Linked DNA regions of Homo sapiens: region 1 is linked to region 2. Evidence: fine-mapped expression QTL. A gene starts in region 2. The other region holds a variant in brackets. All regions are shown on one strand. Distances are between the middles of the regions. Region 1 overlaps TGDS (TDP-glucose 4,6-dehydratase). Region 2 holds the start of GPR180 (G protein-coupled receptor 180).

Region 1 (15,689 bases), 35 kb before region 2:
CCACTTCTAAATCTAGTTCTCTTGCTATTTCCACCACATCTGCAGTTACTTACTTCCTCCACTGAAGTCCTGAACCCCTCAAAGTCATCCATGAGGGTTGGAATCCACTTCTTTCAAACTCCTGTTAATATATTTTGACCTTCTCCCACGAATCATGAATGTTCTTAATGACATTTAGAATGGTGAACTCTTTTCAGAAGGTTTTCAACTCACTTTGCCCAGATCCTTCAGAGGAATCGCTATCTATGGCAGCTATTCCTTACGAAATTTACTTCTTAAATAATAAGGCTTGAATGTCAAAATTACTCCTTGACCCACGAGGTACAGAATGGAAGTTGTGTTGCCAGGCATGAAAACATTAATATCCTTGTACATCTATATCAGACTTCTTGGGTAACTAGGTGCCTTGTCAATGAGCAACAATATTTTGAAAGAAATCTTTCAGTCATCTAGGCTTTGTTGTATAATTTCTAGAGCACAGGCCGAGTAGATTTAGCATAATTCTTAAGGGCCTTAGGATTTTCAGAATGGTCAATGAGTGTTGGCTTCAACTTACAGTCACCAGCTGCATTAGACCCCATTAAGAGAGTCCTCTGAAACTCTGAAGTCAGACATTGACTTCTCTTCTCTTAACTATGAAAGTCCTAGATGACATCTTCCTCTTTTTTTTTTTTTTTTTTCTTTGAGATGGAGTTTCGCTCTTATTGCCGAGGCTGGAGTGCAATGGCGTGATCTCGGCTCACTGCAACCTCTGCCTCTTGGGTTTAGGCGATTCTCCTGCCTCAGCCTCCCGAGTAGCTGGGATTACAGGTGCCCGCCACCACGCCCAGCTAATTTTTTGTATTTTTAGTAGAGGCAGGGTTTCACTATGATGGCCAGGCTGGTCTCAAACTCCTGACAGCTGAACCACCCACCTTAGCCTCCCAAAGTGCTGGTATTACAGGCGCGAGCCACTGCACCCAACCTAGATGGCATCTTCTAACAGAAGGCTGTATGGTCTACATTGAAAATCTTTTGTTTAGTGTAGCTACTCTCATCAGTGACCTTAGCTAGATCTTCTGGATAATGTGCCACAACTTCTCCACCAGCCCTTGCTGCTCACCATGCACTTACGTTATAGAAACAGTTTCTTTCCTTGAGTCTCATGAACCAATCTCTGCTAGCTTCCAACTTTTCTTCTGCAGCTTCCTCACCTCTCTCAGCTTTCACAGGATTGAAGAGTTGGACCTGGCTCTGGATCAGGCTTTGACTTAAAGAAATGTTGTGGGGCAGGCGCGGTGGCTCACGCCTGTAATTCCAGCACTTTGGGAGGCTGAGGCAGATGGATCACTTGAGGTCAGTGGTTAGAGACCAGCCTAACTCCTGGTCTCTCCTGGTGAAACCCCATCTTTACCAAAAATACAAAAATTAGCTGGGCGTGGTGGCAGATGCCTGTAATCCCAGCTACTGGGGAGGCTGAGGCAGGAGAATTGCTTGAATCTGGGAGGCGATCATGCCACTGCACTCCAGCCTGGGTGACAGAACGAAACTCCATCTACAAAAGAAAAAAAAAGAAATATGGATGGTTTGATCTTCTATCCAGAAAATTCAAATTTTCTTCACATTAGCAATAGGGCTGTTTCACTTTCCTATCATTCATGTATTCACTAGAGCATCTCTGTTAATTTCCTTCAAGAACTTTTCCTTTGCATTTACAACTTGGCTAACAGGTACAAGAGGCTTAGCTTTTGGTCTTTCTCAACTTTTAAAATGACTTCCACACTAAGCTCAATCATTTCTAGCTTTTGATTTAAAGTGAGAGATGTGTAACTCTTTATTTGAACACTTAGAGGCCATTGTAGAGTTTTTGTTTGTTTGTTTTTCAGAGAAAGAGTCTTGCTCTGTCGCCCAGGCTGAAGTGTAGTGGCGCCATCTCGGCTCATTGCAACCTCTGCCTCTTGGGTTCAAGCAACTCTTGTGCCTCAGCCTCCCAAGTAGCTGGAATTACAGGCGCGCCATCACTCCTGGCTAATTTTTTTTTTTTCTTGAGATGGAGTTTTTGCTCTTGTCACCCAGGCTGGAGGGCAGTGACATGATCTCGGCTCACTGCAACCTCCGTCTCCCGGGTACAAGCGATTCTCCTGCCTCAGCCTCCCAAGTAGCTAGGATTACAGGCACCTGCCACCATGCCCAGCTAATTTTTGTATTTTGAGTAGAGATGGGGTTTCACCATGTTGGCCAGGCTGGTCTCGAACTCCTGACCTCAGGTGATCCATCTGCCTTGGCCTCCCAAAGTGCTGGGATTACAGGTGTGAGCCACCGTGCCCAGCTCATTGTACGGTTATTAACTGGACTAATTTCAATATTGTCTCAGGGGATACAAAGGCCCCGAAAGAGGGAGAGAGATGGGAGAAAGGCCTAGCAGTGGAGCAGACATAACATACAACATTTATCAATTAAGTTGGCCATCTTACATGGGCATGATATGCGGTGCCCCCAAACAATTATACTAGTAACATCAAAGGTCACTGATCACAGACCACCATAACAGATATAATAATGAAAAAGTTTGAAATGTTATAAGAATTGCCAAAATGTAACAGAGATAAGAAGTAAGCACATGCAGTTGGAAAAATGCCACCGATAGACTTGCTCGACTCAGAGTTGCCACAAATCTTGAATTTATACAAAATATAATTATCTGCGAAGCACAATAACGTGAAGCACAATAAAATGAGATATGCCTGTCGTTTGGAGCCAAGAGAAAAAGATGAAGACCTAGAATTGCTTCTTTTGCTCTTCAAAATCGACTTAAGTAGAGAAAACACAAGGGGGCTTCGACTTCCTAAATTTGGGATAGAATGGTTACATTGGTAAAATATAACATTTTCCATCACCCGGTAACACTATTTTTAAGAGTATGCCAATTAAAACATAGTGGGTTTAGCTATAAAACACAACAGTATTAAAAATACTATTAAAGCTAAGGACGGATCCTAGAAAAATCATTCAAGGTTAGAAGTTTCTATAAAGAAGCACCAAAGTGAGAATTAAAGATCAGTCTTTCTAAACAACAACAAAATATAAGTGAAATCAGATATAAGACTTGCAAAACTGGTTCACCTCTTTCTTAAAGTGTGAGATTTGAGCAAGAAAGTGAGCTTTATGTAGTCAAATGGTGTTTGACTACAAATCGTAAAAATGCAAGAGATTCTGCCTGGGGTGAGGAGGGAGGGGGAAATGTGTGTGTGAGGAGGAAGGGGGAGAGAGAGGGAGAGAGAAATTGAGAGACAGACAGACAGTGGCAAAGACTCTGCTCTTTAAAAAACCTGCAAATGAATAGAGATGCTGAGTGTCCAGGGAGGTGATTACACCCCCAGGAGCTCCGTGTTTAGTGGAACACACACACCTATAAACAAATTGTATGAGTACAGTGTGATGGTAATATAGATGGCAGAACTTCAACATCTGCAGGTGAGGTCAAAGAGAGGCTCAAGCTAGCTAAAGATTCTAGAAGTGCAATAAAACAATTTTTGCATCTTTCGTACTGGCAAAAATTAAAGGTCTATTAATACCCATGGCTTGCTAGAGTGCAGGAATTTCATCTCTATCTTTCAAATTTTAAGTGCATGTGCTTTTGGACCCAGATATACCAAATCTAGGCATTAATCCTTCAGAAATACACGCTCCTGTGTACACGCAGGTGTATATTGAGATGGTCAATGCAGCATTTTTTCAATAGTTGTAACAGTATAAATTCATGGCCTTCAAACATGGCTGCACCTTCACTGGGCGGTGGTAGAGCTGCTGCTCTCATTTTCCTCTGAGACACTACAAAACTCACTTCTCTCCTGTTGCCTTCCCGACTTTCAGGAAGAAAATTGAGGCCACAGTGAATTCCCTCTCGTCCCTCCCCAAAAGTCACTGTATCCAATCTCATCTCAGCTCCTGTCATTACTAATCCAGAAAGATGAGATCAACCCTATCCCAAAGTGAGTCTTTCCCTAGGGAGCCCATCTCCATGGACACTGTACTCCATTCATTATGCACTCCTGAATATCATTTATCTTTCTTCATTTATTGCTCATCTCTTCAGCTTATAATTATACAGAAGTCCTTTCTGTGCTAAAAACAAAACAAAGCAGCTTCTGAAGACCTTTCCTTAAGCCTGTGCCTTCCTTAGGGCTGGCCCTATCTTGACTCTTCTCAGCTCATTGAAAGGCTAAATTCCATTTTTCCATCCCTTGATTCCTAATTACTACTCAATCTTCATAATCCAGAGGTTCTCTCCCTCTCCCCACACTAGAAAATTTGCCTGCACATTGCCAAAAACCAGTGGACACTTCTTAGTCTTTGCCTTACTGAACTTCAGCTGGCCATCTGCTGGTTATTGAATGTCTCTCCCTTTTGCTTTGGTGGCGTTATTTCTTCCTTTCTTCCACTCCTCTGACTATTCCTTTTTTTTTTTTTTTTTTTGAGGCAGAGTCTCACCTTGTTGCCCAGGCTGGAGTGCAATGGCGCAATCTTGGCTCACTGCAACCTCTGCCTCCCGGGTTCACACAATTCTCCTGCCTCAGCCTCCTGAGTAGCTGGGATTACAGGTGCCCAACACTACACCCAGCTATTTTTTTTGTATTTTTAGCAGAGACAGGGTTTCACCATGTTGGCCAGGCTGGTCTCAAACTGCTGACCTCATGATCCACCCGCCTTGGCCTCCCAAAGTGCTGGGATTACAGGCGTGAGCCATCGCTCCCCGCCCATTCCTTCTTTTTTATTTCAAAATTGATTGATTGATGGATTGATTTTTAAGGCTAGTCAAGTGAAGCAGTGGGAGTAATTTTTTTTTTTTTTTGAGTCAGAGTTTCGCTCTTGTTGCTCAGGCTGGAGTCCAATGGCACGATCTCGGCTCACTGCAACCTCCCGCTCCTGGGTTCAAGCAATTCTCCTGCCTCAGCCTCCCAAGTAGCTGGGATTACAGGCATGTGCCACCACGCCCAGCTAATTTTTGTATTTTTTTTAGTAGAGACAGGGTCTCTCTATGTTGGTCAGGCCGGTCTCAAACCCCTGACCTCAGGTGATCTGCCCACCTCAGCCTTCCAAAGTGCTGGGATTACAGGCATGAGCCACCGCACCTGGCCCATAATTTTGTTTTTTAACCATTCCTTCCTAATTTCCTTGGGCTGCTTGCCTGCAACTTACATATTAGTGTTTCTCATGGCTTGTCTGTAAATCATTCCACCCACCATCAACACTGTCATTTTGTATACTTTCCTTGGGGGGGGGGGGATTTAATCTACTTTCAGATGTTAACAGTCATTTAACTCCCAAATATGTATGTCTAGATCTTGAGCCCTGACCACCAATCTGAGCTTCAGATTCACATACTTGCCTGTTCACCAGGTATCTCCACTTAACATGTTCCACAGACCCTTAAAGCTCAACATCTCTCCAAGCTCAACATCTCCTAATTGTAATCCACCATTCTCCACTCTTTCCAATTCAACACTGAAAACCTTAAAATACCACTCATGTCAAAAAACAGCTCCTCCAATGTATCATCAATCAGTAAGTTTTTAAATCTAAAACGTTCTCATGTCTGTCCCAGACTTTCCCTTCCCTGTTTGCGGTGCTGTGCTTTAGGCCTTATCATCGCCAGCCTGATTTACTGCAACAGCTTCATAACTTCAATCCCTGCAGGAACTCATTCTTGTCTTCCTTAAATTCGTCTTCCATGCTATTGCCAGAAAAAGCTATCAAAAACATAATTCTGCAGTCAATAAAAATGGCAAAAGATCTCATAATATGCAAAAACATTCATGATATACTGCTGCATGAAAAAAACCAGGCTCCACAACAGTATGTCCATTATGATCCTCTACTTGGTTTTTAAAATGTATGTATATATGCACAAAAAATTAAATTACATACATCAAAATATTAACAGGAATTATCTTCCAGTGTTAGATTATGGGTGATTTTCTTTTATTGATTAGTTTTCCAAGTTTTCTATAATAAGCATATTATTTTTGAAACTAGGAAAAAGATAAATCCTGTAAATCTAACCATGTCAATTTCTTCCTTAAAATCCAGAATTAGCTCTTGGCTGGTAGGATAAAGTCCAAGCATCTTACCATGGCAGACAAGGCCCTCCATGACCTGGCTACCACATTCCTCTCCAGCCTCACCTCCCCATCTCACATTATGGAACAGTGGCTTTCAAACATTAGGGGGCTTCTGAATTACTGGGCCCCACTCTCAGGGCTTCTGATTCTGTAAGTCTGGGAATTTGTATTTCTAACAAGGTCCCAGGTGATGTGAATGCTGTCTGTCCAGGGCCACATTTAAAAAAATCATTATTATGGCAAAATATACATAATGTAAAAGCCATGTTCAACCATTTTTAAGCGTACAATTCAGGGGCATTAGGTAGACTCAATGTTGTACAGCCATCACCATTATCTGGTTTCAGGACTTTTTTCATCATCTAAACAGAAACTCTGTACACATTAAACAATACCTCCTCCCTCCCTCCTCCCTCAAGCCACTGGTAAACCTCTGATACTGTGTCAATTTGCCTACTCCAGGAACCTCATTTGAGTGGAACCATACCACTTTTGTCCTTTTGTGTCTTCAAGGGTTATCCATGTTGCAGCATGTGTCAGAATTCCACTCCTTTTTCAGGCTGAATAATATTCCACTGCATAAGCCATTTTGTTTTATCCATTTATCTGTTGATGGACATTTGTGTTGTTTCCACCTTCTGGCTATTGCGAATACTACTGCCATGAGCATTGGTGTGCAGGTATATTAGCCTCTGCCTTCAATTCTTTTGGATATACCCCTAGAAGTGGAATTGCTGGATCATATTATAACTCTATGTTTAACTTTCTGAGGAACCACCATATTGTTTTCCAGAGGCTGCGTCATTTCACATTCCCGGCAGCAATGCACCACGGTCCCAATTTCTCTACATCCTCATTGACAGGGTGTTGTTTTAAAAAATAATAGCCATCCTGATGAGTGTCAGGTGATATCTCATTATAGTTTTGATTTCCTTAATGAAATGGAGACACGTTTTGAGAATGACTATGCTAGAGTAAAACTGATGGCGTATTGTTTCCTGAACACACAGCACTATTTAAAACTTGGTGCTTTCACTCTGATGATCCCTCTGCCTGGAATCATCCTGTTTCCTCACTAACTCCCATTCATTAAGTCACAGCTCAAATGTCATCTCCAATGAGCCTTCTAGGAACCTCCAGATTGGGTAAGCTGACCTCACAGAACCTGGAAGCAACTGGGGCAGTGGAAGGCGGAGGTAAGGGAGGTAGGCGAGGGTAAGGCATTGGATAAAAAGCAAGTGGCGCAGCTGGGCGCGATGGCTCACGCCTGTAATCCCAGCACTTTGGGAGGTGGGCGGATCACGAGGTCAAGAGATCGCGAGCATCCTGGCTAACACAGCGAAACCCCCATCTCTACTAAAAATACAAAACATTAGCTGGGCGTGGTGGTACGTGCCTGTAGTCCCAGCTACTTGGGAGGCTGAGGTTGCAGTGAGCCAAGATTGCACCACGGCACTCCAGCCTGGGTGATGGAGTGAGACTCTATCTAACAAACAAACAAAACCAAGTGGTTTGGTTGAAAGTCTGTATAGAGAGCAATTAAACTCCAAGACCCCCTCCTCCCCTACAAATGGCAATTATCAAGGTCTACCATTTGGATTTCCCTTTAAGAAAAAGCTTGCCATTCAGCTGGCAAGAGTGCAGTTAGCCAGCAGCTTCCACTTGCAATGCCTTCGGGATCCACCTGGTCGTTTCTAAGTAGCCCCTGGCCAATGGCTGAGCACAATAGGGAACCCAGCCATTTCTGCCCAGGTGGGGCTTTTTTT[T/TC]CAGGAGATTTTGCTCTGCAGATCCCTGTTGAGCTGGATGAGATTCTGAAGCCCACTCTGCCAACCCTCTTCCTCACCCCTTCCTTTTCACAGATGTCTGATCTACGCTGCAGCCTGAAGATTTCTTCTGCCCAATTATGCATCCTCCCTTTTGTATCTTTCACAAGCATTAACTCCCTATCCTATTAATAAACTGCTAGCACCTCTAATTTGGCCTCAGCCACTACTTCCCAGAGGACCCAAATGACACAGTCACTTCTAAGAGTGGTCTAACAAAACAGTTGATAAGATGGGTTTAGACTGGATCACTTTCTGCCTGTCTGGTCATAAGAATACCATCCTGGGTGAGGCAGGGGGCATACACAGTCCCTAGCATAAGGTAGTGATGCAGTTGCTAAAACTTTCATGTTGGTGACTTGGGGGGAATGTTCTTTGGAAGGGGACCACCCTGCCCTGCTTACTGCAATAATTCAGGCACTTGAAAAGCTCAGGAGAACACGTCTTACAAGGGCAGTGGAATTGTTGGTCTTTAATAAGTTGTACTGATGTCCTCCAGAAGGGTAATGAAAAGCTAAGAACAAGAAATAAGTGACAACTAAGTGTGAGGGCCTTATCATGAGGTAGGAGAATAGAAGAAGCCCAAGACCAAACTCAGTATTTAATAGTTTAAAAGCTGCAGACATCTTTAAAGGAATCCACTCAGACAGTCTCATCTTTGTGTCAGGGTCCTAGATTTTCCCAACCAGCACCCTAACCTTGGCTGAAGCAAACTTAACAAACCTACCTCAGCTGGGCCTCTGGCCTGGCTGAGATAGTAAATCAAAAACAAAATCACAGCTGGGAGCAGTGATCGCATGAGAACTTACTATCGCGAAGACAGTGTCAAGAAGCCAAGAGGGATTCGCCGCCATGACCCAATACTTTAGAACCAAGGCAGGAGGATCACTTGGGTGCAGGAGTTCGAGACCAGCCTGGGCAACATAGTGAGACCCTCGTCTCAATTTAAAACACAAAATCACACCTTGGAGGAGGTGAAGATGATGCCACCCTTGAGGATCTCAAGGTTACAGAGAGGCCCCCACCAAAGCTCCGTTTAATTCACCAGTCTGGCCACTGCTAGAACTGGGTAGATCCTGGTGAAATGACTGCAGTCAAGGCCAGCTCAATTAAGGAGCAGCTCTGCTGTAAAGAAATACCTGCGACTGGGTAATTTATAAGAAAAGAGGTTTAATTGGCTCACGGTTCTGCAGGCTGTACAATCATGGCGCTGACATCCCTTGGCTTCTGGGGAGGCCTCAGGGAGCTTTTACCCATGCCGGAAGGCAAATTGGGAGCAGGCACATTACACAGTGAAAGCAGGAGCAAGAGAGAGAGGCAGTAGCGGGGATGGAGGGTAGGTGTCTCACACTTTTAAACAACCAGATCTCACAAGGACTTACTATCTTGAAGACAATGTCAAGCATGAGGGATTCTCCTCCATGACCCAAACACCCCCCACCAGGCCCTACCTGCAGCACTAGGGATTACAATGCAACATGAGATTTGCACGGGGACAAATATCCAAACTTATATACCAGGTTCTGATGGCAGCTGCTGTGCTTATGTGGCATCTTCTTTGCTGAAGTGGATTAGAAGGACCCTGGAACATAGTATCCAGCCACTGATTTGCTGTATGTGTTCTTTTCCATCTCAACCATGATGATCAGAAACCAGGAGCATTTGCAGTTTCACCTTAGGGCTATGTAAGTTCTGCTCTCCTAAGAGACTTGGGTGTCCTGAACATCCTGTAGAATGTCACAGTGATCTATCACATTGATGGTGTCATGCTGATCAGGCAGAATTAGCAAAGGTGGCTAGCACCCTGATGGCTTTGGTAATTCACATTCACCCCAGAAGGTGGGAGATAAAATCTGATGAAGATTCAAGGACTTGTGATTTCAGTAAAGTTTTTAGGAGTCAAACAATCAAGGTGTGCCAGGACATGCCCTCCAAGTAAAAGTCAAACTGCTTTATCTTATATCCCCTTCCTCAGAGAAGGAAACACAGAGTGTGGCTTTGGGTTCTGGAGGGAACACATTCCACACTTAGGGATACTGCTCCAGCTTATATACTGAGCGACAGAAAAGGCTGCCAGCTTTGAGGGGTCTGGGGCGGGAAAGAGGTCTGCAGCAGGTCCAAGCTGGGGTGTAAGCATTCCTGCCACTTGGGCTATATGATGTGGTAAACCCTATGGTGTTGGTGGTGTCAGTGGTAGAGACAGATGTAGTGTGGGTTTTATGGTGAGCCCCAGTGGAGAATAACTATGCAGGTCCCATGGTTACACCTGGGAAAGACCATTTCAGGCTCAGTGGAGAATCATGCCTTTGGAAAATAAATTACTGTGCCATGGTAGACCCAGAATACTTGACGACAAGACACCAAATGACCATGCATCTAGAACTGCCCATATGTACTAAGTTCACTTGGACCCACTGTTAAGGGCTGAAATGTGTCTCCCCCAAATTCTTATGTTGAAGTACTAACCCCTGGTACCTCAGAAAGTGACTATACTTAGAAACAAAGTTTTTAAAGAGGTATATTAAAATGAGATCTTTAAAATACACTCTAATCCAGTATGACTGGTGTCTTTATAAGAAGAGAAAATTTAGACACAGAGTAAAGATCACATAAGGACAGATGATGGCCACCTGCAAGCCAAGAGAGGCCTCGGAAGAAACCATCCCTGCCAACACCTTGATCCTGACCTTGGACTTCTAGCTTCCAGATCTGTGAGAAAATTAATTTATGTTGTAGAAGCTACCCAGTCTCTGATATTCTGTTATGGCAGTTCTAGCAGAGTAATGTGCCCACCCACTCAGAGTCAGGTGGAGCCAGCAGCAGTCCACTGGAAGATGGAAATGGCACATCTGGGATCGAGCATGAGCAGAATGGGAGAGCACAGGTAAGTTGTAAGAGCAGGTAGGCCAGACTCCCATGTCACCACCTTAGTTCTTTATACCTGTGGCCATATAGAGGGTCCCATACAACCAACTGAAAGGAGAAAAAAAGTTGATCTTAGTTTATAGATGGATTGGCCTGTTCTGTGGGTGCAAGCCAAAAATGGAGGGTGGTTGCCTGAAAACCATGCAGGGGTGGCCTTAAAAAGAATGTGGAAAGAGAAAACCTTTCCAAGAAAAAAGCTTCGAGTAGTATCCCTGCTCATGCACTATGTATAGTAGTGACCTGTGGTGAGAATATACATTTAGTCATGACCAGTAGCCTGGCTAGCTACTTTGGGGCTTAGAAGGAAAAAGTCTAGAGGAGCAGGAAACAAGGAAGTAAAGGTTGGAGAAGCGTGGATAGGCCTATCTATGGGAGAGGGTGGGGAGTGTGAAGATCTGTGTATTCCATGTTAACACTCACTAGAAAGCAACCACCATAGCAAGAGGCACTGAACCACCCAGTAGATAAAATGACTTGGTCAGTTAACTTTAGCCAGCTTTCATCATCAGCCACCCCAGAACTACCATGATGGGCACCTGAATGGAATAGGCCTCACTGTACAGATGGTCCCTACTCTTGGGACCCACAGCATGAATTCTCACTTACCACAGCCAATGTAGCTATTGTCACCTGTGAATATCCAACCTGCTGGCAATAGAGACAAATACTGAGCCCCCAATATGGCACTATTCTTCAAGGAAACCCACCAGCTACCTGGTGGGACATGAACTCCATTGGGCCCTTTCCACTGTGAAAGGGCTAGTAGCTGATTCTCACAATAGACATTTTCTCCACATGGGTTGGGTTTGCCTTTCTGCCCGCACAGCCTGCCCAATTTTGCTTCCTCCTTCTTTTATCGTTATAGTCATTACTTTCTCTCTGCATCTGCTTCCTGTAAGACTCAACTGACACACCTGTCTTCCCTCTCTTTCTCTCCAGAAAGGGGAAATTGGAGAAATTGAATAGAAGAGGTATGGACTCAGGGATCCCTAAGCACAGTGGGAGGCTGGTATTTAAGGGTATTTTTAAAGTATAAGACTTTCTAATGAGGAATTATGATGCCTCCATACCAAAATCTGCATTCTTAATAGAGGGCCACCCAGTTTCTTTTCCCTTTCTCAACCCAATAGCCAATCAGTTACTTTTTCAAGTCTTCTTAAAGTCTTTAGGGCAAAGAAGGATTAAAAATATATAATCAAATTTTTTTTTATTTTTCTACAGCAAAATAAAAACATTATTTTAAAAAGCAATATTCTACATTAAATACATTAAGATATTGACAATTTTATAAATACAATCATTTTAAACAGTAAACATGATAAATTTCTGATACAAGGTTTTACATACGTTAATTGTGAAAATATAAAAACTTTACACACTTCTCTTAAAAAGCATTCAACGTAATCAATTTTACAAAATTATCAATTTAAAAAGTGTTAGATATGCTTCTATTTTGTTCCATTATTAAGGCAATGATAGCATATCAGATCTTAAAAAAGAAATGGTGAATTAGGGCCTAAGACATCCTATATTGCCTAAAAACGAACATTTCAGAGACTTTCTTAGGCACTGAGTTCAAAACCAGTGAAGGTTGCCTTCTCCCTAGCACCACTACCCCTCATGGTTGTCCGAATCAGGAGACTTCTTCCTGGCTACCCTTAGGGAGAGTCTTCTACACCTATTATTTCCTAGTTTCTAGGAGAAAGGGTTTCAGAAAGAATTTTGACATTTAAATTCTATGCCAGTACTGAAACTCTCCCAAAGATTGAGGCATTCTGCATTTGAATTTTATACAGAAAGTCATGAATCTAATTCCAAAAGAAAAGAGTGCACTTCATTTGGTCACTTAATTTCATACCACTTGGCGAGGTAGGATAACTTTCTTCTTTGACAACTGTCTCGACTATATAAATGGTGATTATACCGGAAAGGGTTCTAATGCCTTTTCCACATTCTTCCAGTTGTGAAAATTCTCTCTGTACCATTCAACTAATAGGAAAAAACAAAAGACAAAAAAAAAAAAGAAAAGAAAGAAAAACTAAACATCAGTTAACCAACCTTTACTGAGTTCCTGCTAGCTAAGTCTTGCCCATCAGCTAAGCAGCAGACAAGGGCTGACTAATGATGTAAACAATTTGATTTTGAACTTAACAATGAAGTCAATCAGAAGACATTTAAATCACCTAAAAAATTTATGATTAAAAATCAACTATTTTTTTCTTCTTAACTTCTAAAGTCATTCAATACTGAACTTGGTATAAATATTTAAGATTCTGATTTTAAGGAATTTGGGGTGTGGGAAATAAGTCATCTGCCCTGGTTTTAAGGTTATTTTATATAAAAAAGTATAATACAGTGTTTAGTCGTATAAATATGGTAACACTGCATGAGAGGCACAATGAGTTGATGTGAACTTCCTTGCTTTTTTTTTTTTTTTTTTTTTAAAGAGATGGGGTCTCGCTGTCACCCAGACTAGAGTGTAGTGGTGCAATCGTAGTTCACTATAGGCCCAAACTCCTGGGCTCAAGAGATCCTCCTACCTCACCCTCCTAAATAGCTAGGACTACAGGCATGTGCCACCATGCCCCGCTGATTTTTTTACTTTTTGTAGAGACAGGGTCTCGCTATATTTCCCAGGCTGGTCCTGAACTCCTGACCTCAAGTGATCCTCCCACTTTGGTCTCCAAAGTGCTGGGATTACAGATGTGAGCCACTATGCCCAGCACCTTCCTTCTATTAATATGTGAAATTATTTTATATTGCTATACTATCAGTAAAAGCTTTTTTAGTTTAAAGAAATCTGATAGTTTTAAATTATTTTTTGTTTCTTAATATTTGACTTAAGTATTTGTATTTCAAGCTCTGAATCAAAACTTTTTTTTCTACATCTGGGTAGAGCTTTTCTCATGAATACATTTCTAAATACAGCTTTAACATGTATACACAGACTTTATATGCACTTATTTTAATAGATTTTTCTGCACATACTAAATTTATTTCCTCTGTTGGTTTCAATATAAAAAGCCTCAAGACACAAAAAAGACTGCATCTATATTTCACCAACTCTAAGATGCCACTGATGGATCATTATTTTACATACATGTAAAAAAGAAAAAAGCTACAATAATAATTATAAGACACCAGTGATTATAAAAATACATACCTTTTAGGAGTGTGAAGAAAGTGAAAAAATATGTACCTCAGAATAAATAATACAGGTATTTGATTAATGCTAACAAGATATGGGAAGATTGATCAGAGGTTGGTTTATAAAATTCAAGATGCTTAGGAAACACAGGACTGCTACTAGAAATATATGAAATGTGGCAATTTGAAAAGTACGAATGATTCAACACAATATTCCACTGGTTTGTATAATGTTCTGGAAATAAGTTATTTTTCCTTTAAATTTTTCTGACTTGCCCCCAAAATGATTAATTCAAAACATACTTGTTTTCTTTATTCCTTCTTTCCAAGGCACTTTAGGTCTCCATCCTAAGCCATGTATTTTTTCTGACTTCATTGGGTATCTCATGTCATTGGTGGGTCTTGGAAAACAAAACAGATTTAAAATAATATTGTAGATATATATTTACAAATTTAGATATTAGGAGATATGTGTTTATGCATTTTTACCACAACCCAACTTTTCTCTTTACAAAAATTCCCAATAGGTTTTCTGCAGAAAGTCTGTAAAATCAAGTATATATTTAAAAAAAAAAAGTCACCCATAATGCCAGGTGCCTAACCCTCTCTGTGTCTTGTCTTCTTGTTTCAGCCACGATCTAGATATAAGTGAAGTACCTGACACATCCAAAAAACTCAACAAATGTTCAATGACTAAATAAACAAATACACAAAAACTTATTAGAACTCATATGCCAGGCTGTGGGTCAGGTATTTCATACACATTATAAATAAGTGTTAGAATACTTTTATAAGAAAGATGTTATTATTGGCCAGGCAAGGTGGCTCATGCCTGTAATCCCAGCACTTTCAGAGGCCAAGGAGGGCGGATCACGAGGTTAAGAGATCGAGACAATCCTGGCCAACATGGTGCAAACCCGTCTCTACTAAAAATACGAAAATTAGCTGGGTGTAGTGGCGTGTGCCTGTAGTCCCAGCTACTCGGGAGGCTGAGGCAGGAGAACTGCTTGAACCTGGGAAGGCAGAGATTGCAGTGAGCCGAGATTGCGCCACTGCACTCCAGCCTGGCAACAGAGCGAGATTCTGTCTCCAAAAAAAAAAAAAAAGATGTTATTATCCCTATTTCACACTGGAGGTTTGAAACTTCAGACTTAGAAAGGGTCAATAGTTTTTTAAGTCACATAGCTAGTAAGTAATAATGCTATACTTAATTTGTATGGTACTTACGATTATGAAAAAAATGTTTTACCAGAAAATTCAAAACAGATAAACTAGTTATTGGTCAAGTCCACATATTTTATAATTTTATAAGTACCTAAGATTTCACAACCTTTCCCCAAGGTTTTAACTTGTTACTCACCTATCATTAACATAATCAACCCAATTTTCCATTTCAGACTCTGAATTGGTCTCTTTGATCTGTCAAAATGGAAAAAGCTTTTGAGTCAAATTATAAAATGAGATCAGAGAATAACAATAGTATTTAATGGCTGATTAAAAAGAAAACAACTGCCTCATAGCAGGGAAGACAGCTAAAATGAACATCATTTTAGTAACACTTTCTATACTTTATAACCTAAATTCCATCTGAAGCTCAGATATACACATTGGATTTTGGTTATTATTCAGTTCCTCTTTCTATTAAACTAAGATTTAAAATTGATGTCCCCTAATATACATGGACATTCATAAC
Region 2 (15,689 bases):
CTTGAATGGCATCCTATTGACCACCACAATTAAAATAGCGAGCTCTGCCCAACCCTGCCGAATCATCTTATCCTTCTTTATTTTTCTTCCTAGCACTCAACATTTACATTGATGTCACTGCCCTCTGTTTAGTGTTCCATGAGGTCAGGGGCTTTGTTTTGTTTTCTGCTGTAATCGCATGTCCTTAGAGACTTGGCACAGAATAAATGACCATTAAATATTGTCGAATAGATAAATATCTTTTTTTCCCCACCATAATGTTTGGCAAAGCTGAAAACGAATGGAAACATCCAGTACAGGTGTATATGTGGAAGAATCATACCACAACCTTTTTACAAGGCAAAGTGGTAAAACATATGAAAATTTCAAATGTTCATATTCTATGACCCCCTCAAATTCCATGATGTATAATATAGATAATTGTTCATTGCTGTATTGCTTGCAATAATGAAACACTGGAAATAATCTAAATGTGTATAATGTCTTCTAACTTTTAAAATGCAGTAAACTGCTATATAGCCTTTAAAAAGAATATACCAACATGGAATGAAGACCAAAATATATTGCAGTCGATACGTACAGTTTTTTTCTGACCAGACTCCTCCCCCCACTGTCCTTTATGATCTCCCCAAGTTGACCCAGGCAGGCCACAGAATGAAATCTGGCTGACTCTAGGCCAACTGAAGCCTCTTCTTGGGATTTAGAATTCGACTAAGGTGCTAGTATAGTCTGGTTACTCTACTTGAACTCTGAGGTCCTACAAAGCTGGAACTTTTTGGTGGCCATGTTCTTTCAAAGTGAGGAGCCAGAAAGCCTGTCTTCACAGTGAGAAAAACAAAGTTGATTGAGAAGAAAGAAAAGATAGGAAAGGCCTAACATTCAAGGCCTGTGTTATGATTTCTCTTCAGGACCAGTTTTATTCCTGTCCTTGGTTTACAAATACCACATATATTTGTGGTATTTGTAATACCACATATATTTGTGGTATTTGTGGCTTACTTGAAAGGATTGACCCTAAACTCTTAAAATAAGTTACCTTTAGGGATGAGATATGGGCAGGGAAAGGAGGAAATGGGGAGTTTAATTTTTACTTTATATACTTTTGTTTTTTTGAGACAGTCTCGCTCTGTTGCCCAGCCTGGAGTGCAGTGCCACAATCTTGACTCACTGCAACCTCTGCTTCCCAGGTTCAAGCGATTCTCCCATCTCAGCCTCCAAGTAGCTGGGATTACAGGCGCATGCTACCACACCTGGCTAGTTTTTGTATTTTTAGTAGAGATGAGTTTTCACCATGTTGGCCAGGCTGGTCTTGAACTCCTGACCTCAGGTGATCCACCCACCTCACTTCCCAAAGTGCTGGGATTACAGACGTGAGCCACTGCGCCCAGCCCACTTTATATACTTTTGACTGTGAATTTTTTTCTGAGACACATGGATTACTTGCATAATAAAGAATCCTTGCAGTTTTTTTTTTTTTTTTTTTTTTTTTTTTTGAGACGGAGTCTCGCTCTGTCGCCCAGGCCGGACTGCGGACTGCAGTGGCGCAATCTCGGCTCACTGCAAGCTCCGCTTCCCGGGTTCACGCCATTCTCCTGCCTCAGCCTCCCCAGTAGCTGGGACTACAGGCGCCCGCCACCGCGCCCGGCTAATTTTTTGTATTTTTAGTAGAGACGGGGTTTCACCTTGTTAGCCAGGATGGTCTCGATCTCCTGACCTCATGATCCACCCGCCTTGGCCTCCCAAAGTGCTGGGATTACAGGCGTGAGCCACCGCGCCCGGCCGCAGTTTTTTTTTAAAAAATCCGAAAATATTAATACTTCCAGCATATTCCTGGTCAGCCAGAAATACTGAAAATGCTGTGTATATGGTAGGAGGTGGTTCCTCAATATTTTTTTTTTCTAAATGATGAGGTCTGTTATGAGAACTTCCTTATATGTTATAGAAGCTTGTTGTTAAATGAAAATAATTTATATACATTTATTCATGAAATAATTTTGAGCTCCTACTTTTGTTACCAGTGGAGGGTCTTGACTGCAAGTTGTCCAGTTTCTTGGCATTTTGAACAAAGAATTGGACAAAATGCACAGCAAAGCAAGGCAAGAATGAAGCAACAAAAGAATGAAGCAACGAAAGAACGAAAGCAGGGATTTATTGAAAATGAAAGTACATGGCCGGGCGTGATGGCTCACACCTGTAATCCCAGCACTTTGGGAGGCCAAGGTGGGTGGATCTCTTGAGGTCAGGAGTTCGAGACCAGCCTGGTCGACATAGTGAAACCCCGTCTCTGCTAAAAATCCAAAATTAGCCAGGTGTGGTGGTGTGCACCTGTAATTCCAGCTGGAAGCTGAGGCAGGAGAATCACTTGAACCTGGGAGGCGGAGGTTGCAGTGAGCCGAGATTGTGCCACTGCACTCCAGCCTGAGTGACAGAGTGATACTCTGTCTCAAAAAAAGAAAATGCAACTACACAGCGCAGAAGGGCCTGGACACATAATCATCTTGGGTCCAAATACTCCCTAGAAGTTTCCCATTGGCCACTTGGAGCTCACCTCATATAAATGAAGTGGTGGCCCCCAATAGGTCTGATTCTTGGGGAAAGCAATGAATCAGAGGCTGAAGTGGAGTTACAAAGGTCACACTCCTGTGCAAACATCTGATTGGTTGCAAAAAGCAATGTTACAGAGTTACAAAGTTGCACTTCTATGCAAACGAAGACTCAGCTGGCAATCAGTCTGACTGGGTAGGGACAGCCAATTTCTTATCTGCCTCACAGAAAAGGTGGGGATTTGCAAAGGGCATAGCCTCTGGTCCTTTTGTTACTTAGGGTGGAAAGTTAGGGTTTTCCTTTAATAGTTCTAGAAAGTCGGTGTAAAAACGCCTTAGGTTCCCTCACCCCAGGCCCTATTCTCCTGCCTCACTTTCATTAAGACAGGTATAGCCAGCAAGGTGGCTTACGCCTGTAATCCCAGCACTTTGGGAGGCCAAGGCGGGCAGATCACCTGAGGTCGGGAGTTTGGGACCAGTCTGATCAACATGGAGAAATCCCATCTCTACTAAAAATAAAAAATTAGTCGGGCATGGTGGCGCATGCCTGCAGTCCCAGCTTCTCGGGAGGCTGAGGTGGGATAATCGCTTGAATCCGGGAGGCAGAGGTTGAGGTGAGCCGAGATCGCGCCATTGCACTCCAGTCTGAGCAACAAGAGTGAAACTCCGTCTCAAAAAAAAAAAAAGTGTAGTCACTGACCAGCTGGAGCTGACAATAGAGGCGGAGATTTCAGACACATGAATGGATACTTACAGTACAGTGCGTGAGTGCTCTGGTAGGGAAGTAAGGGATTCTGGTTCCAGGGGCATCTACTACAGACTTAGGGGTTTGAGAAAGGCTTCTTAAAGTGCCTTGGGAAGGAGGAGTAAAGGAGGAAAAGGAAGGTGAGGAGGTCCAGTGTTGGAATAAGCAGAAGTATTCTAGCCAGAGGGATCAGGGAGTGATATAGGCCTAGAAGGGAGAACTTGGGAGTGTTCAGGAAACCAACGGCGGTAAGGATGGAGATGAGAAAAAACAGACATTTGAGAGTTGAAGAGCCATATTCTAGAGTTTGGGTTGTGTGCTAAAGGCAATTGAGAACCTTTCAAGGCAAGTGCAGCAAATTGTTTCCTACAGCTTTCTGTGGCTGTAGGGTAGAGATGGATTGTAGCCAATTAGAATGAAGACTGTAGAGACGGTCTTTGCCATAGGCCAACAAAGTGATGAACTGAGTAGGACTGTGGCCGCTGCTTCCCACCCTCACCAGAAGAAGGGCTAATCCACACTTGTTATTGAATTGATTGAATTGCGGGGGGGGGGGGGCCTACAATTCCCAGCGGTCTGGTCTGCGGGCGGGGGTGGGGGTGGGGGTAATGTAATTCGAGAAGCCAGAGAACCTAGGAGGGAAAAATCGGCTGGAGATGCCAAGAGAAGGCATGCGTTAAATTGTGGTCATGCGGAGCTAAGTGTCTTTGAGACATTAAATCGGACACGTCCTGTAGGTTATACAGGCGCCAAGGAAGAAAATCTGCATAAGAACACAGTTTTTTCTTTGCGGGAGTTTAACTCTCTCGGCCAGAAACAGTCCTGTCCTGCATTTCTTAAGTTTTTTCCGAATCCCACAAGCCCTTCGAAGGCCCCGCGGACTCGTGCCAGCGCGCCCGCGCATGCTCAGTAGCAAGACGTGCTAGGCAATGAGGAGGGAGATGAGTTTTCCGTAACCTGAAGCAACATCCTCCTGATTCCTCATTAAAGAAAAAGGCGGGAACTAGTCAAAAGCCGGGGACTGATGGGACGCTAGGATCTGCGCGTCCCGCCCATTTCGGCCTCTGACTGGTGAATGTCTTCGGCTTATGGCAGAGGAGCCCGCCTCATTGGCTCTCAGGCTCCAGAGCAGCAGGTCTCCGGCGCCCACCCCGCCTCCCCCAGCTGCCGACGTGGGGCGGGCAGCCGCCGGCGGCTGGGAGCCGAGGCGTCGGTGCAGACCTGGAGACGGGCATGGGGGGGCTGCGGCTGCTGGCTGTGGCCCTCACGTGCTGCTGGTGGCCGCAGGGCAGCCAGGGTAAGACCCTGCGGGGCAGCTTCAGCAGCACCGCGGCCCAGGACGCCCAGGGCCAGCGCATCGGCCACTTCGAGTTCCATGGTAGGTCTGGGGGCGGGGAGGGGGATGAAGGCGCGCTGGCCCATCCCGCCGGCTGAGTCCGCCGGCCGCTCCTCCCGGCCCCTCCCTGCCACGTTGGGCGAGGCCGGCGACTTCCCCAGCCTCACCTGGACCTCCAGCGTTGCAGCAGCTGCCGCGAATGGTGGGATGCGTTCCTTGCCAACCCCGCTGGTGCGGCTTTCCAGCCCCAGGCAGCGGCCTCTCGCCACTAGTGATCGTGTTCCGCACCTGAAAGCTGGTTTCCATTTCCCCAACCCTCCCCTTGGAAGCCAATGTGCAAAAGACTGGTCGGCCGCATCTTTCCAGATCCTTCCCGCAAAGAAGCATATTTGCTCCTTCCTGTCTCGGCCACACTGTGACGGGAGAATTTAACCCTAGAAACTTAAATTTCCTTTTTTTTTTTTTTTTTTTTAAAGACCAATTTCCTGAGACCTACTTGCAACAGAGTGGTTTTGGAAACCAAGTAAAACACTTGATAATGTAGTTGTTATATTGAGCAGTTTGGTTACTTGGCTACTAGGGCAGTAGATTTACTATGGGCAGTAAGGCCTAGAATTAAGCTGATGAAAATGCATTTAAGTAGCATCTTGGAAGCTCCCTAATTTGTGTTCTGTGTGGCTCTTCTGAAATCAGAGTTGCGTTTGATTTCAGACCTTTTGGTCTTCCTCAAAAATCAGTAATTATTCCTTCAATAAATGCATTTGCAATTCATTCTAATTTTGGTCTCATTTGCACTCTCACAATTTAAGTGTTTTTCTTGGTACTCTTAATTTGACTAGTGCTGTATTTCAAATAATTATTTGCCTTGATGACATTAGGAACTTTGATTTGTACAGTCTTTAGCATTAAAAGATGCAACGATGAACATCAGAATATTGGCCTAGAAAATATTGTTAGGAGAAGATAATAGAAACGGAACTACTTTGGTGAGAAAAGGAATTTAAAGTATTGGGAAATTACAGAATTGACAGAATAAAGGGAAGGGATCCTGATTTTTTTTTTTTTTGAAGTTTTTAAGATAGCTAAGAAAAGGAGTTTCAGTAACCCAGTTTTTCAAAATCCAATGTGGAATATATTTTGGGTGAATGAAGAAGAAACACTAGAAACAATTTTATTATTTTTTGTAACATTTTGAGTTTCTCATTCAACGGACTGTAACCATACTTTGAGTATTGACAGCCACTGTCTTAAATGGCACAATGTGGACAGTGTTGGAAAATGTGGGATGTATAGAAGACGTGGGTTATTACTTAGGACCAGCAGAGAGACTTGGACGACCTCATAGTTCCTGATGATCATCTGGTAAACGTGGAGGAGAAACATGTACTAAATTCAGATTTCTCAAGACAGATTGGGGATAAGGTGTTTCAAGTGCGTTCATTCTGTTTCATATGTGTAAAATCACATATAGTTATTACCAATTTTCATGAATCCCAATTCAGTAAAATAATAATACAAAAACTATACTGAAACAATGAACTGTAACTCGGAATGCAATTTACAGTGTCAATTGGGCCTCAGAGTCACTTGTAAGACTTCAAAATATGTAATCAATTTATGTAAGAGACTTGCACATTCTTTGATATATATACTGTATATTTAAATATATTTAAAATGTTTAATCAAAGTGGTAATTATAGTAATAAAAGCATAGAAAAAAAATTTCCAGGAGAATAGAAGATCTTAAAATGAAAAACAGTCTCCTGTCTTAGCTCTTTCACCCAGAATCCCTTTCCCTAGAGGCAATAACTTACTGCCATTTCTGTTCTGGGCCTTAAATGTAGTTGGTGTGTGCAACCAGGTTCATTCTGTATTCATCTTACAACATATATTATTCTGAAAGTTCTTTTTTTTTAAAAAGGAAGCCAGACTCGTTGGGTGGCTCCTGCCTGTAATCCCACCACTTTGGGAGGCAGAGGTGGGCAGATCACTTGAGGTCAGGAGTTCAATACCAACCTGGTGGCTGGGCGTGGTGGCTCACACCTGTAATCCCAGCACTTTGGGAGGCTGAGGTGGGTGGATCACCTGAGGTCAGGAGTTAAAGACCAGCCTAGCCATCATGGTGAAACCCCGTCTCTATAAAAATATAAAAATTAGCCAGGCATGATGGCAGGTGCCTGTAATCCCAGCTATTTTGGGAGGGTGAGGCAGGAGAATCGCTTGAACCGGGGAGGCGGAGGTTGCAGTTAGCTGAGATCGTGCCATTGCACTCCAGCCTGGGCAATAGGGCGAGAATATGTCTCAAAAATAAATTAAAAAAAAAAAAAAAGACCAACCTGGCCAACATGGTGAAACGCTGTCTCTACTAAAAATACAAAAATTAGCTGGATGTGGTGATGCTGGGTGTGGAGGCGCATGCCTGTAATCCCAGCTACTCCTACTCAGGAAGCTGAGGCAGGAGAATCAGGAGAATCGCTTGAACCTGGGAGGTGGAGGTTGCAGTGAGCCGAGATTGCGCCACTGCACTCCAGCCTGAGTGACAGAGTAACACTCTGTCTCAAAAAAAAAAGAGTTTTGCTCTGTCACCCAGACTGGAGTGCAGTGGTGTAATCAAAGCTGACTGCAGCCTCAGACTCCTAGGCTAAAGCCATCCTCCCATCTCAGCCTTCTGAATAGCTGAGACTACAGGCTCAGCCACCAAGCCCAGCTAATTTTTTTTTTTTTTAAATAGCAACAGGATCTCACTTTGTTTCCCAGGCTGGTCTCAAACTCTTGGGCTGGGAATCCACCCACCTTGGCCTTCTAAAGTGCTGGGATTACGGGTGTGGCCACTGTGCCCAGCCCCTGAAAGTTCTTTTGTAAAAGTCGTAGATACCAAATTTTGTTTTAGGTATAATATGTCTACCCCAGAACACATACATTTAAACTTTCCTGCTATTAGCTATGTTTATTTTTTATATTAAGAGTATAATTAAATATTAACACCTATGTCATATTAAAAAACAGAAACTTTGGTGGGACATTTCTATAGATTATGAATAAAATATAAAATGTGAAGTGGTTGTAAAGTGAGGCAAAAATTTTAATACAGTGAATTGTTCAAATACCCCAGATATTGCGGTTTATTGAGTGAAATATCAGTTATCAGCTGAATTTCAAGGAAATACCACACGTTCATTTGAATAATCTCTTGCTTCTGAATGTTGTGTTCATTATGATGTGATTTACCTAGTTAAGCGAGATTTAAGAAGAATTGTGCTTTTTAAATTTCCATTTTGGTAAGTAGAGGTGTTGAGTTGTCCTCATGTCTCAGTTTCATGTAAGACCAAACTAGTTGATGATTTTTGTTTTAATGTCAAGGTGACCATGCTCTTCTGTGTGTCAGAATCAACAACATAGCAGTAGCTGTTGGAAAAGAAGCTAAACTCTACCTGTTCCAAGCCCAGGAATGGCTAAAGCTACAGCAAAGCAGTCATGGTTATAGCTGTAGTGAAAAATTATCCAAAGCTCAGTTGACAAGTGAGTATATCCTTTTTTCTTTGATCATTAGATATAGTTTTTTTCCTCCTAATGTTGAAATATAGTACCATATGTACATATGTTATGTTTCCTGACAGCATAATCCCACTGTGATGACACTTTGTCTAGTACATTTTAAGCTGAGTTTTAACAGTGCCTTTCCCTTTTTATCATTCATCGTTTTTGAAAAAAAAATCCAGATAATTTATATAGGAGTCCTTTCTTTCATTGACTCTTTACAGTTTGCATAATTTATGCCAATATGGAAACTATATTTTGACCCAGTGGCAGCATGGAATGAATGGTAACATTTGTTGAATGCTAATTATCTGCCAGCACTGAGCTAAATGCCAATGTATTATCTTAGTTAATTGGGTAATTTAGCTTGAGTGATGCTGTTTCACAACATGTCATTTGAACATGAGACTTAGTTATATGGTATAAAATATGTCACTTTGACAGCCAGGTGCAGTGGCTCAGGCCTGTAATCTCAGCACTTGGGGAGGCCAAGGTGGGTGGATCACCTGAGGTTGGGAGTTTGAGACCAGCCTGGCCAACATGGTGAAACCCCGTCTCTACTAAAAATACAGAAAAAAATTAGACAGGTGTGATGGCATGCGCCTGTAATCCCAGCTACTTGGCAGGCTGAGGCATGAGAATTGCTTGAACCTGGGAGGCAGAGGTTGCAGTGAGCCAAGATCATACCACTGTACTCCAGCCTGGGCGACAGAGTGAGACTTTGTCTCAAAAAAGTCACTTTGAGATGTACCACCACCACATCATTTGTATACTTCTGGATTTGCCTCTAGAGAGGCTGTACTTTTTAAATCCTAATCTAGTGGCTTAAATCCGTGATCCCATTCATTCTCATCAACATTGTCCTGTGCATTAGGTTGCTAGCCATCCAGAGTGAGTGAAAATTTTTTTAAATACGGAAATGAAGAACATGTGCCATTGTTTCCATTTTGCACCTCGCAAGTTAATTAGGTGTAGAAGACATTAGAAATTTGAAGCATCCATGAGGAAAAATGGGAATTATTCTTCCCTTTTTCCTCTTATTATTCAGGGACTCATCCATATATGGAACATGGTAGTCTCTTCTCTTAGCCTATTCTAGTGAAGCATTCATTTCTAAACATCTGGCTTTTATCTTATCAGCTGTCTGATTCCCTCATAAGGCAACTAGCTAGATCAGTGAAAAGAGCAGAGGTCCCCAGTCCTTGCCACCCATTGTGGGGATCTTTAATGTAGATTTGTGAGATGATATTGTGAGAAGATAGTATCCTAAAGATGAATGACAATTACATACAATTATTTACTTTGACCCTGAATTCAAAACTTATCTGGGAAATACATGCAGATTCTCTTGATTGGTTGTCTCTTCCTTTCTCTGCCAGTTTGCTCATCTAAGTGTTGCACATATGTGTAAAAGGTCATGTCCTTCAGTTCCCAATTCCTCTGGCGTCTAAACTGAACTCACCATCTTCCCCATCCAGACCTGGTCCTCTTCTGATGTTCCCTGTTTTAAGAATTGGCACCACCATCCATCCAGTAAACAGTTGAGAAACCAAGGTGTCTTCTAATACTCCCCTCTTTGACCTTTCTACCCCCTCATACATCAGTTAAGTCTTGAGGTTTTACTTTTAAATATCTCTTGAATTCATCTTGCCTTTGCTATTTCGACAGTCTCCTACGTGGTTATTTTATAGCCATGCTGGTCCCCCTTCTGTAACTAGATCTTTCTAAATAGCAGATTTGGTCATGTTACATTCACTTCTTTACCACACCCTTAAAATAAATGGTTTCCCTTAACCTGACCGGGCCTCCTTAACCTGACCAGCAAAGCCATTGTAGACTGGCTGCTGCTTACCTCTCCGTTTCATCTCAGGGCATTGCCCCACTCACTGCATTTTATTTCAGTGCTACTCTGAGCCTTTGCATAGGCTTTTTCCTCTTCAGCCTCCCCTCTGGCTCCTCCGTCGATTAAGTTAACACCTAAGTTTTTATAGCCTCTTGCTTTCCTGCATAGCACTTACTATAGTTACCACTTTACATTTTATTTATTTGTTATAAAATCAGTCAATGAGAGCAGTAGGGCTCTTCTGGTGTGTTCATTCACTGAGCGCTTCCACTGTTTCATGTACTGCTAGGTACTGTTGATAGATCAGTGACCAAAATGTCCTTAAGGCTGGTGGAGGTGACCAGAATGAATCAGATGAATGTGAATAAATGTAAAATTGCAATTTTGATAAGTACTATGAATGCTAATTATATGGCACTATGAGAATGAGAATTGATGATACCCCGGTGCTTAGTTAAGTTTTTACTAAGTATTTGTAGAATGAATAGTCGTAGACCTTCATGCTTAAGGGCTTGTTGTTTGGCTGGTTGTTAGCTTTTTGTGTTTGGCATCTCAAAGACTTTTTCTATCTCCAACAAAAACTTACTAGGCAGTTTAAAGCTTTGAGCTATAGGAATATTGATTTGTTCTCTTGTATCACATAGTCAGTATTTATATACTTTATACACTTAAAAACCTCATTTTCGTATGAGTCATATTCCTGTATTCCCAGAACTTCTGTATACAGGGAGACAGTGTGGTGCAATGGGAAGACCATAAAACTGAGTATCACTGCTAGTGATTTATAACAAGAACTCGTTATCTTTGAACCTCATTTTACTTATCTGTACAACAAGCAAGTTGGACTAGGTGTCCCTAAGGTTCATGATAGTTCCAAAATGCTGCCATTCTCGTTATAACTCTTAAGGATGGAGTTACTTATGTATAGGACTACAACTTAACAAAACCTTCTGCTGTTGTTTCTTTTTCTAGTTTCTCTTTCTTTTCCCTGTTCTGTTAAGTGCAGAGGTATATTTTGAAATTGTGGAATGGAAGATAACAGGTAACAGGAATTTTAGAGGAATGAAGGTTGTTTTGTCAAATTTTGGGGCTTAAAATAAATTTAATACTGATTTCTACATATATGTACTTCACCAATTTTTTTTTCCAATAACAAAATCCAAATCTTAAGTCTCTAACTTTTATATATTGTCATATTTATGGTATGTTATTTAGGAGCTTAGGTACATTTAAACAAAAAGCATATCCTTAAATTCATGATGTAATAGTAACACATATTTAAGAATAGTTCCTTATAGCAAGTGCTTTTCTTAGCTATTAATGAGACTTAAGAGTTAACAGCCTTTCACCTATTTGGTAATGAACTCAGTAACTCTGCCCAGCTCCTACGTAAAACCTTGCTGCTGCTGTGTACTATGAAAAGACTAGCAGATTAGAAAAATCTTAGTGTTGAATGTTGCTTGACTCTCCCAAATTAATGTTTGAAAAATTATTTTTCAGTCATCTCTTTGTTCTGTCATAAAAATCTGATTTAAAAAATACTAAAAACTATTTTGTAGATTTTTAAAGCAAGCAAACAAGACATTTGAAAGCACTGAAAATGATGAGTTTATGTATTTCTATCTAAAACTTAACGAGGAGATTCGGAGGAATTTTCTATCAGATTACAAGAGCTAAATGTAATATTGTATATAAAACATTTCAGTGTTGTCTTTTTACATATTATGCATATGATTCCTTTTGTAGTTTGGTATATTTTATAAATCATTTAAAGGTGTTAGTATTTTATTGTGTGTTTTGGTTAACAGTATTCAAATCCTTTTATAATATGATTGGATAATTAGCTATTCAACACCATTCTCAGCAGTTCAAGTTTTGTTAATATTTGAGGTACTAATTACACCAGCATAGAATATGCATGCTGTGTTGTAGTCTTTTGTCTCAGAAACAATGAACACACAGTTTTGTCAAGAGGCTTGTTTCCCAGCCTTGCCGAAAAGACAGCAAGACAAAAACTAAAGGCCGGTATCACTTTATGAAGCATACTTTTATTTCTGTTTGAAGTAAATCCACATAATTTAAAATGAAACATCAAAAATATATTGGTAAAAGTGTGGGTTTTTTTTATATTTTATCTAAGAGAAAAAGGGCAAATGATAAAAATGGCAACACAGCAGAGCCTTTATATAATGAGGTCCGGATTATATAATTGCAAATTGCACATTTAAACAGTCTTATTTGTGAATCATTTATTGATCATATATTAAATTCTTACTAAAAGTCTTCCAATATTTAACAGAAACTAGAGTCTTTGCTACATTTTTCCAGAAACTGTATGTGTGTTTTTTTTTTTTTAAAGGTAGTTTAAATGTCAGCTAACTTATAGTAGCCAAAAAGCAATGCCATGGTGGTGGTAATCAGATCCTCTTGTTCAATTTAACCACCAATGAACGAAATTCCCAGTTGTACAGTCCAAGTCCTCAAAATTCAAATCCTGACTACATCTGTATCTCATTCCTAAAGACAACCTATAAATAACATTTTTCCAACTTTCCACTAGGAAAATTTCCCAACATACAGAAAGGTTGAAATTATAGTACAACCAGCATCCATATATCCTCTGCTTAGACTCAATAATTGTTAATATTTTGTTAAATTTGCTTTATGTCTATATGTATGTGATTTTTGTTTTAATTGAACCATGTGAAAATAAGCAGCAGGTATCACAGTTTGCCCCACCATACCTAAGCATACATCTTCTAAGAGTAAAGAAATTCATCTGTTTAACTATCATACACCTAAGAAAATGAGTAATTCTATAATGTCCTCTGAAATCTATTCCATACATACATTTCTAGTTACCTCAAGAAATGTCTTTTATTTATTAAAAATGTTTTTTTCTACAATTGAGAAAAAGATTAAGACTAATTTGTCCTTAAATATTGACATGTTTTGGGTGCAATCTAGAGTTGGGAATTGGGTCCATCATAATACTGTTTTAAAAATACTTTGTGTAGAATCATGCTCTTTCCATATACTTTTCATTTGCCCCTCACAAGAACTCTGCACTAGCAGGGCAGGTATCTTTATTTGACTATTGAAGAAACAAATTTAGAGAGTTTGTAAATTTATTTGCTGAGTCGCAAGGCCAAGACTCGCTCTTCTAACTCTACTCTTTTTGTTACACCCAGAACTTGAGACACTCCTCTCCTAGGCAGCTTCGTGTTAGTGTTAGTCAGTGCCTCTTAGGTCAGGTCAGATTCAGAAACCGCAATTACTTTTGCACCAACCTAATAGTTTTAGGTCCAGAAGGAATCTTAGACATCATTTTGTGTTTCTCAGAAGGGAGTGCCGTTGGCATTTTAGGGGGAATAATTCTTTGCATGAGGTTCAACACAGCCCCCCTCCAAGTATCTAACCAGCTATTGTGACAAAAAACTATCCCCTCACATTTTCAGATGCCCTGGAGGAAAGGAGATTACCCTGGATTGAGAACCACTTACTAATATAACTACCTTGTTTTAAAGAAAGGAAAAGCAGAATTGACATTTAGCAACTACTCTGTGACAGTTACCATGCTAGGTGACTCAAATAACTTAGTGCTTATATCAGCCCTTTGCTGTAGGTAGTATCTTCATTTTACAGATGAAGAAAGTGAGTGTCATTGCTTATGTAACTTACCCAAGGTCACACAACAGGTAAGTATTGAAGCCAGGATTCAAACATACATCTGAATGATGCCACACACCCCCCACCCCTGACTGTATCATACTACTTCATGTGGACCTGATCCAGTATAATAACTTCTGCATTCCTGTAATTTCTATTTTTTCTGCTTTTTGTACACCTTTAAAGAACAACCAATCAGAAAAAGATTTTGGAAAATCTTTTGAAAATACATAGTTTTTAGATATAATGATTTTGTAAGTTGAATGCTCCATTTTAAATTTAACTCGAGTAATCTTCAAAAATGTCACTGTGATTGTTGCACAGCATTGTAGATGTGCTTAATGCCATAGACTGTACACTTAAAAATGGTTAAAATGATACATTTAGCATTGTGTATATTTTACCACAATAATTTTTTTGAATGTCATTAACCAACCCGGAAACTGTGAAAATATCGAAAATCAAAATTCAAAGTTTCAGCCGCCGAGACCAAGATGGTGGCGAGACTTGGCACTTTCCTCAAGAATGCCTGGGCCAGGGAGCCAGTGCTGGTTGTGTCCTTCATCATTGGTAGCCTAGCTGTAATTCTGCCCCCACTCAGCCCCTACACCAAGTACTTCATCATGATCTACGAGACCATGCCCTACAACTACCCATTGCCCGTCCGCAATGATGGGAACATGACCAATGTGCCCGGCCACCCCCAGGATCCCCAGAGCTCCAGCTTGGAGTGGCTGAAGAAACTGAGCACCTCCACTGACAGAGGAGGCCCCTCCCATCGCTCCCAATACGAATGTGAAAACCAAAAAGAAAAAAAAAAAAAAGAATTCAGAGTTTCAGTGAAGCCATTCTACTTGTGGTGTTTTATAGTCATACTTTTATAGTGATTCCTTGGTTAAAAACATCATTTTTATCTCCTTTGCAGATAAATTCTGATTTATTCTATAAATATCTGGTTTACAAGACTTATTCCAAATACTACACAAGGTCTTGGATTTCTGAGACAATAAAAATTAAAAGATTGTCCTAACCTCAAATTGATTATATGACTAAAACAGTGAAACACATTTGAGAATTTTGTTACAAAAGGTGTTTTCTTTCTCTTTAAAGTGACCATGAACCAGACCGAACATAATCTGACAGTGTCCCAGATTCCGTCTCCACAAACGTGGCATGTGTTTTATGCAGACAAGTATACATGCCAAGATGACAAGGAGAATTCTCAGGTGGAAGATATCCCATTTGAAATGGTGTTACTAAACCCAGATGCCGAAGGGAATCCATTTGATCATTTTAGTGCTGGAGAATCTGGTAAGAATATGTATTTGAATATATCCTAAATTCAGGAAAAGATTTATGTACAAATATATTCATGTTGTATTTTTAAAATCAAAAATGAAAGCAACCTGTGTTTCCAAAACTAGAGAAATGGTTAAATTAATCTTCTTATAGCATTTTGATAGCCATCATATTAATTTTTAAAAGCAGAGTATTACTTGAGTGTATTAAAACCTGCAAAGAATAAAACAGAAAGAAGCACAAAAATATTAATAGATTATTTTGATACTCTGGGTTGGTAGAATTGTATAGTTTTGTTTGTTTGCTTGTTTGTTTTGGCTCCAGACAGGAAACAACTTGTGTAGTTTATAGTTTATACATTCTAAACATTTTTGTTTTTATGATAACCTTGCATTATTTTTATAAACAGAAAAATGGTAACAAATTAAACAATTTAAATTGTTAATGATTAAATGAGATTAGAAACTCAGCTACTTTGTATGGGTAACTCTGTACTAGCTTGTTTGAACAGATTTAGGGATTGCCTTCATTGAAGCTTACAACAATTTAGGGATGATCAGAGTCCATAATACTTCTCAGAATCAGATGTACTCATATGAAATATTTCATCAAAATGTTAGGTAACTATGTTCTGTCCTACTGAGGTAAGATTCCACCCCCAGCAGAAATGAATGACTTCTTATGATCATGATGAACATGCTATGAAGTATAACTGAT

What was found.
Region 1: its variant is fine-mapped to the expression of GPR180 in whole blood (INTERVAL, PIP above 0.99). The same link has a PIP of 0.9 or more in fibroblasts and lymphoblastoid cells.

The regions. Positions count from the first base shown.
Region 1 is chr13:94,562,015-94,577,703 of GRCh38, forward strand. It overlaps TGDS (TDP-glucose 4,6-dehydratase), which reads right to left. Exons shown (of 12, transcript NM_014305.4): 10 at 15,357-15,415; 11 at 14,300-14,397; 12 at 12,040-12,838. The coding sequence ends at 12,768. Among named protein-coding and RNA genes, the nearest start is that of TRF-GAA1-5, 20 kb to the left of the region's middle. The variant T/TC (reference allele first, on the strand shown) is at 7,868.
Region 2 is chr13:94,597,407-94,613,095 of GRCh38, forward strand. GPR180 (G protein-coupled receptor 180) reads left to right here and starts at 4,451. Exons shown (of 9, transcript NM_180989.6): 1 at 4,451-4,666; 2 at 7,985-8,143; 3 at 14,784-14,984. The coding sequence starts at 4,522. It also overlaps the pseudogene NDUFA3P5. RefSeq lists enhancers at 4,189-4,483, 6,839-7,338 and a silencer at 4,262-4,861.